Homo sapiens: one gene and its partner. The protein of the gene in region 2 purifies or fractionates together with the protein of the main gene of each other region. This does not show direct contact. Each region holds a gene or a part of one and is shown on either strand. Other genes may lie near its edges.

Evidence for each region. The genes of interacting proteins can lie anywhere in the genome.
Region 1: the proteins of DHRS3 (region 2) and GAP43 purify together in Homo sapiens (affinity purification with mass spectrometry; one large-scale study listed by BioGRID and IntAct). This does not show direct contact.

The regions. Positions count from the first base shown.
Region 1 is NC_000003.12:115,630,010-115,633,509, reverse strand, and holds part of GAP43 (neuromodulin), read right to left. Parts: intron 1-3,500. UniProt on the Homo sapiens protein: This protein is associated with nerve growth. It is a major component of the motile 'growth cones' that form the tips of elongating axons. Plays a role in axonal and dendritic filopodia induction.
Region 2 is NC_000001.11:12,569,320-12,573,907, forward strand, and holds part of DHRS3 (short-chain dehydrogenase/reductase 3), read right to left. Parts: intron 3,535-4,588; coding exon 3,409-3,534; intron 1-3,408. UniProt on the Homo sapiens protein: Catalyzes the reduction of all-trans-retinal to all-trans-retinol in the presence of NADPH.

The DNA of each region.
Region 1 (3,500 bases), on a different chromosome or scaffold from region 2:
ACCACACTTGAGATAAGTTCCTTCTGACTCGGGTAGCTAACCCACATGTGGACTATGTGGACATATAGGTATATATGCAGGAGACTAATTCTCAACCAACTTACCCTCTCACTAGATTTACAAGTGTGGGCTTACCAAAATTGTCTCTAACCTATGTCACCCAGCCCTTTTTCCAGTCAGAGATATCGGCCCTGTGGCAGTTGCTAGGTGACCCAAGCAGGACCAATAAAATTCATTCATCCTCATTCTCTCTCTCTCTGTCTCTCTCCCTCTGTCCCTCTCTCCCTTTGTCTGTCTCTCTCTTATCTCTCTCTTTCTCTCTCATCATTTAAAATTTGAATTGTAGCTGGGATTATTAATAACTGAGTCTTTTTTGATGCAGGGCCCCAGAAAGAGTTTATGAATTCCTGTTATTGAAATTCTACCCTGGTTCCCATAGGCTTCGTTGTTCAACTTACTAATTTCATATGATCGCTGCTTTTTTTCTTTTTCCAATAAATTCCTTTTATAGACTCTTAAAGTTGGTTTTGGATACTTGTTCCCAATCAAAAAACGCATATATAATAGAAGTAGTGTGTTCTGAGGCAGAAGAAGAAAGAAACAGGGAGAAAGGGATGTAGCTAGAGTGAAAGTTTAAAGGTGATACCATTAACCAAATATAAATATAATTAAAGAAATCATTATTTCCTTCTGGACACCAGTTTATTTTCAAATTTCTAGTTAACACACCTTTCTATTGCAGTCTACATGAGCCCTTTGTATAAAAGTATTTTGGGAAAATATGTACAATACTAATTTTTTTATGCTAAACTTTTGGCTTCTAGGAAAAATAGGATTTCTTAGACTAACTTGATCCAGTTATTATACTTTAAAGTATTTCTAAATGTTATCCATATGTTTAAAAACTCAGTTTCTTTGGTTTGTAGAATTCTGTGCTTATAGGAGAATCTGTTAAATTTTGTTGTTTTAAAGTGGTAATTTATCCCAGTCATGCCCAGGGACACAGAAGAACTATAATGTCCTTTGTGGAGATCTTGAGGGCTCAAAAGATTATGGCATTTAGAGTTGAGTTTGGAAAGGTTTAGGATTACATATCACCTCTCTAATCAAGGTTTATTCCTGTTGTATTGAGGAGCCCTGAAGTCAGGTTGTGGAAATGGTGATCAAGGGATCATCTTTGAAATGTGCTTCCCCCAACCAAACTGTATCTACATTTTCAGTCTCCCAACCAGCCCTGCATTTTCTCTCCACTCTTCTGCCTGACTGGGCCCTCATGTGATGGATGTGAGCACAGCATGCCTGGCCATCTTAGTGCTGAGAACCCAGTTTGGAGGTGAAGTGGGGGTGGGTATAGAGGGGGAGGCAGCAAACTTAGCAAATGGAGAAGAAAAGAGATCTAAATGTGAGGAAAAGACTAAAACAGAAAAAGATAAAAAGAAAAACAGTGGGTATTTCTAATGCATTTGAAGTGATCCTTGGGTCTTGTAACACTTTGAATATTGGCTTATCTAAATTCTGTCACTGAAGTTTTCAAAGGAAATAATAAACAGATACTATGTTCCCATCCATTAGCATGGTTAATATTTACTCTGAGCCGTGCCCGGCTCATGCCTGTAATCCCAACACTTTGAGAGGCCGAGGTGGGTGGATCACTTGAGCTCAGCAGTTCAAGACCAGCCTGGGCAACATGGTGAAACCTTGTCTCTACTAAAAATTCAAAAGTGAGCCAGGCGTGGTGGCATGCAACTGTAGTCCCAGCTACTTGAGAGGCTGAGACAGGAGAATTGCTTGAACCTGGGAGGCGGAGGTTGCAGTGAGTCGAGATCACACCACTGCACTCCAGTCTGGATGGCAGCAAGACTCCATCTCAAAAAACAAACAAACAAAAAATTTACTCTGTAGAGTATGGGAATCAGGTGGAAATGGGGAATGTGTGTATTCTATACAGAGAGCAAGAGTACTTCTTGTTTGCTTAGAGCCATGAATACTTTAGTGCTCGATCTATGAAATTCCTTAATTAATAATACTTACATTTCAAAAACACATTGTTTGCAAAACACTTTTATTGTTATCTCTTTATTTGAGACTCACACCAACCTAATTTTAAGAAGAAAAGGTAAGACAGGATTTGGAGGTTCTTTTTATGTACCCACTACACAGATGAATATACTAGGCTCAGAAAGGTTAAATTACTTACCCAACATCACATGACAAGCAATTGGCAGAACCAGGTCTAGAACCCAGGGAAAGGATTTATTCCACTACAAAGACATGAAACAGGACATTAAACAAACAACATCTAAGAAAATAAGATCTGTAAATAATTAAGGATAGGAAATCTGGAAGATCACATTCCCGTGCTAAACCTGAATGAAATGACTGCAAGTGTGTCTCTCTGATCTAAGCAGACAGGAGAGGGAATTGAACTTTGACTACATCCACCTTGTGAGGGGGACCAATAGAGCTGAGCTTGCATTTACACAAAGCCCACGCTGAATAAGTAATCAGAAATGGTCGTCTGTCCCAGAACATCTCCCCTAATGACCCATCATGATGCTCCTTCCCTTCCTACATTTATTACTTCAACAAATATTTATTGAGAATCTAAGATGTGCCAGACATAGCTTAAAATACCTGTTTTGTCTATAAGTACTTTTTAGAAAGTTTGAAGAAACACACTTTTTCTTAAAGTTCTCCTTCCATAGCCTCACCCACTAAACACTAACATGAACTGGTATTACTTAATCAGAAAAACTCTACCTGGGTCTGACAGGAGGAGAAAATAATAGAAAAACTCAATGCCAAAGAGATTGGGAGCAGTAAGCAAGATATCAAGTGAGGGTATGGCAATTGACAAATACTACTGAACCTTACCAGTTGAAGACAAACTTCACTTACAAATTATTTAGTCTTTCTGCTGTTCTCAAGGACATGCCAATTCAGTCAGAGAAAATACACTACTTAGCGTCTGGCAAGAGTGTTTTCATGGAAAACAGTGGTTGCAATTTGTTCCATGCTGGGCACAATAGGACTACTTCAGAACCCAAGTCCCTTCAGTCTATTTAAACCTAAGAAAAATCCAATTCATCTGGTACTAACATTCCTTTAACAGTCATTTGAGGGACTACTTACCATTCACCCTCCCTATACCTCCAATCATGATTTATCTTTGTGAAATATTATTATGTGGATACTTCAGACGGAAGAAAAGAAATCCAAATGAAGGTAAAATTAATTTTTGAGCACACACACCTAAGCACAGGCCAGCACTACATGCATTTAAAGAAAAAAATATTGCTACTCTTAGTTGATTTATTTCATGGATCACACAGATTGATTTACGGTCTATTTGTAAGAGTTGTGAAGCAAAGCAGTGAGTGCAAGTACTTGGAGCCTCAAAGTAAGGGCATGTGAAGATCCAGAGTTGTGGTAACCAGAGAGGGTGGGGCTGTAATGTTGGTTGTTGGACGAGGAGGACATGGAGGGGAGATAGTGCCAGC
Region 2 (4,588 bases):
TTTTTTTTTAATTTAAAATTTTTATCTTTTTCCTAGATCCTGAAACAGAGCTCATTTTTTTATTTTTAATTTTTGTGGGTACATAGTAGGTATATATATTTATGGGGTACATGAAATACTTTGATACAGGCATGCAAATGTATAATAATCACATCAGCATAAATGGGGTATCCATCACCTCAAGCATTTATCTGTTGTGTTACAAACAATCCAACTATACTCTTTTAGTTTTTTTATTTATTTTTATGTTTATTATATTTTTTTGAGACAGAGTCTCACTCTGTTGCCCAGGCTGGAGTGCAGTGGTGCGATCTGGGGTCACTGCAACCTCTGCTTCCTGGGTTCAAGTGATTTTCCTGCCTGAGCCTCCTGAGAAGCTGGAATTACAGGCATGCGCCACCATGCCCGCCTAATTTCTGTATTTTTAGTAGAGACAGGGTTTCGCCATGTTGGCCAGGCTGGTCTTGAACTCCTGACCTCAGGTGATCTGCCTGCCTCGGCCTTCCAAAGTGCTGGGATTATAGGCGTGAGCCACTGCGCCCGGCCCTTTTAGTTATTTTTAATCGTACAATTAAATTATTATTAACTATAGTCACCCTGCTGTGCTATCAAAGACTTGTTCTTATTCGGTCTATTTTTTGTACCCATTAAAAACAAATGATGGTTAGGTGCCACTAAGTAGGTGACAATGGCTTAATCTGTCTGTGCTCCTTGTCGAGGGGAGTGCTGACCTTCTCTCCCTTCATACAACACACTTTCAAAACCAGGCTCTTAGCATCTTGGTGCCCACAGGCAGCTCAGAGATCCATCGATCCCAACTGCCCCTGATTCCACAAAGATGACGGTGTGGATCTGAGGAATCAGGTTCGATTTGGGTGTCACATCCTCTGGGGAAGCGTCCTGGGCTCACCTTCAGGCTTCTCCTCGTACAACCGGAGTTCCGACGCTTCCCCAGCAAGCCCTGGTGTAGTCCCCACCCGTTTACTTGTCAAGCCTGTGGGGGCCTTCATGGCGGGTATTTCATCTCTGATCCCCAGGCCCTCACATGGGCCCGGCACAGAGAGGGCCCTCAGGCTGTTTGGTGACTCAAACTGAAGGGTCCTGGCCCACTCTAAGTACAAGATGAAAAGGGTTCACTTCCAGCTGGAGCAATCTGGAAGGCTTCCTGGGGGTGGTGGTATTAGAGTTGAGCCTTGCTTTCTCCTGGGGAAGGTGAGGAGGGATGCAGTTCAGAGAATGGGGAGCGGGGTGGCTCCTGCTTCCTGTTCAAAAGTAGTTGTGGGGAAGGTTGGAAAATGAAGGCTGAGGGCTTACTGTGGAGAGCGCTGAGGTGTTCTAGACCAACTTTTCTCTAGAAAGCTCTGGAAGTCTTCTAAGAAGCTCCCCTGAGGTGGAGGGTGGCAGCCTGACCTCAGTGAGGACCTGAGCCCCTGATCAACTAGGGGCTCCTAGAGACGGCTGAGGAGCATCTCAGACCCGAGGTCAGGATGGACTGAGGGAGGCCGAGGTGTGGCCTGGATGCCCCTGGGTGCCCCCTTCCCTGTGCCTCTGAAAGGGCTTTGAGTTTGGGGAAGAGAGGGCTGATCGGGCTTGCGCCTCAGTTTCGAGGTTTCTGTGCCCTGCATGTGTTGGGGCAGCCCCTCAGCTGGGGCTCACCATGTCCCAGCAGCCAGGGCAGAAGTTGGCTTTCCTGGGAGTGCATGTTGCATGAGAGCAGGGGCCAGCCTGGCACTTGGGGGCTTACCTTCCTGAAAAGGACTTCCAGGTCAGAGGGGCTCAGTCAGGAGGGGGCCAGAGCCCCAGGGGAGCCAAGAGCCCATGGTCACTTGTGGCACCAGGGACAAGGATCTCCTGCTGTACTAAGAGGCCCAAGAAAACTGAGTGTGGGACTGGGATGGGAAGGATTTGCTGCACAAAGCCTGGAAAGTTCTAGGGGAATAGGATGCCAGGCAAATTCTGGAGGAGGAGTCTCTCATTTATAAAGCCTGCCTCCCCAAAGTGGTCTGCCCTGCTACATCCCACCCGACTGGTACTAAGACGCTTCTGTGAATTCTGAGCCCTTGGCATCAAGATCCCCATGTTCCCTCTAATAGTAAACTTCCTGAGGGCAGGGGCTATGTCCAATAGGCTGTAGAACAGTGGTTCTCAAAGTGAGGTCCAGGAACCTTTGGGGTACCCGGGATCTCTTCAGGGGTCTGTGAGGTCAATTTTTTTTTTTTTTTTTTTTTGAGACGGAGTCTTGTTCTTGTTGCCCAGGCTGGAGTGCGGTGGTGCGATCTCGGCTCACCTCAACCTCTGCCTCCTGGGTTCCGGCAATTTTCCTGCCTCAGCCTCCCAGGTAGCTGGGATTACAGGCACACGCCACCACACCCAGCTAATTTTTTTTGTATTTTTAGTACAGACAGGGTTTCTCCATGTTGGTCAGGCTGGTCTCGAACTCCCAACCTCAGGTGATCCACCCACCTCGGCCTCCCAAAGTGCTGGGATTACAGGCGTGAGCCACCGTGCCCGGCCACATTGTTTCTGTAATAATACTAAGATGTTATTTGTCTTTTCACTTTCATTCTCTCAGTGAATGGTAGAATTTTCCAGAGGCTACGTGACACGAGATATCACAACAAATTGAAATCAGATGCACATATAAGAATCCAATTGTCTTCAATTAAGCCAAACAAAGAGATTTGCAAAAAGGTAGAACAATGCCACTCCTGACTACATTTATTTTGTTTTAGAATACATAACTAGTTGTCATAAAAATATATTTATATTAATGTAATGGGTTTGTTATAGCTATTTATAAATGAATAAATATTATAAACAAATGTATACAACTTACAACATTTTTCTGGCTTTTAATTTCTTTTTTGAGATGGAGTCTTGCTGAGTCACCCAGGCTGGAGTGCAGTGGCACGATCTCGGCTCACTGCAAGCTCCACCTCCTGGGTTCACACCATTCTCCTGCCTCAGCCTCCCGAGTAGCTAAGACTACAGGCGCCCACCACCATGCCCAGCTACTTTCTTTTTGTATTTTTAGTAGAGACAAGGTTTCGCCATTTTAGCCAGGATGGTCTCAATCTCTTGACCTCGTGATCCACCTGCCTCGGCCTCCCAAAGTGCTAGGATTACAGGCGTGAGCCACTGCGCCTGGCCCTGGCTTTTAATTTCTAATATAGTAAATAGCGATAGCTACAACTCACATTAACAAAAGCTCTTTGGGTTCCTCCATACTTTTTAAAACTCTAAGGGGCCCCGTGACTAACAAGTTTGAGAACTGCTGCCCCACAGTAAGTACAGTACATCAGCAGCAAATGTGCCAGCACTCCTCATGCTCATGCCCGCAGCAGACATGACTAATAGATCACATGCGTACTTTCCCCTGACCCAGAGTGTTCTTTCCCAGCCCCATACCTTTTCAAGATAACGAGGGCATGCATTGTCCATGGGAGGAGGAGGAGGGCCTGGTTGAGCTGCACAGCTTCCACTGTCCTCCGGGCCACCGTCTCCGGCTTCAGTGGGGGAAAGAGGTTGGGAAACCTGAACACAGGAAGAGACACAGTGGGTTTCTCCTGGAGAGGCATGTGCTTATCTGGAAGTCTTTATGAGGCTGACATGTCTGGGTCACCCTTTGGCTTTTCCTGTCTGAGAGATTCGAGGCCTGCTTGGAATACTCCCTCTACCCCACACCCATCCAGGTGCCACATTCCCTCACTCCTCCAGGCACACAGGGGTCTCTTCTTGAGTCAAGGACTTCTAGCCCACCCACTGGGGACCCACTCTCCCAAGCCCTCCAAGGGCTCCCAGTGCCCTAGGGCTTGGCCTTTCCATGGCCCTGCGTAATCTGGGCCCTGGTTGTCCTTCTGAGTCCTTTTCCCTACACTCTGCTCCTTCAGGACAGGCCCATTTCTGTTCTTGTCACATCACATGCTCGGGTCAGGGCTTTTTGCCAGCTCTCTCAACAGCCTGGCTCTCTCCTCCCAGCTCCTCCTTTGGGAGACATTTCAGGCCAGTCCATCCAAAGCGACCTCTGATCCTGTCCCCTGCTAATTTCCTTGACCGCGTTCACCCCACCTAGGAAGACCTTGCTTTTTGGGTTGTTTCCTTGTCAGTGGCCTGTCTCCGCCATCAGGCAATGAGTTCCATGAGGGTGGAGGCCTGGTCGGTCCTGCTCCCCTGCATCTAGCACAGCATCTGATACATAGTATGTGCTCAATAAATACTTGAAGGACTGAACACACTGATGACTTGCTGCTTCCCAAATGTGTCCTGCTCATTCTGTCTGGAGGCAGGGGCTTGGCTAGCGATGGCTGGGGCTCAGCTTGCTGGTTCACTAACTCACTCACTGATTCATTGATTCAAAGATTTGCACAGTGCTTTCCATGGGATCTCAAAATGAATGAATGAATGATTGCATAAGCAAACATCAGGGGCTTCTCATGACTATTTAAAAGCATCTGACCCTAGATCCAAACAATGATGATGTTCCCTACGTGCCAGACTCATGTACAAATTATTCTCCTGATTTACAGATAAGGAAACCGAGGCTGTATTGAGTCAGTAGGGCGCTAAGGATTCAAACCTGGCCAATGCT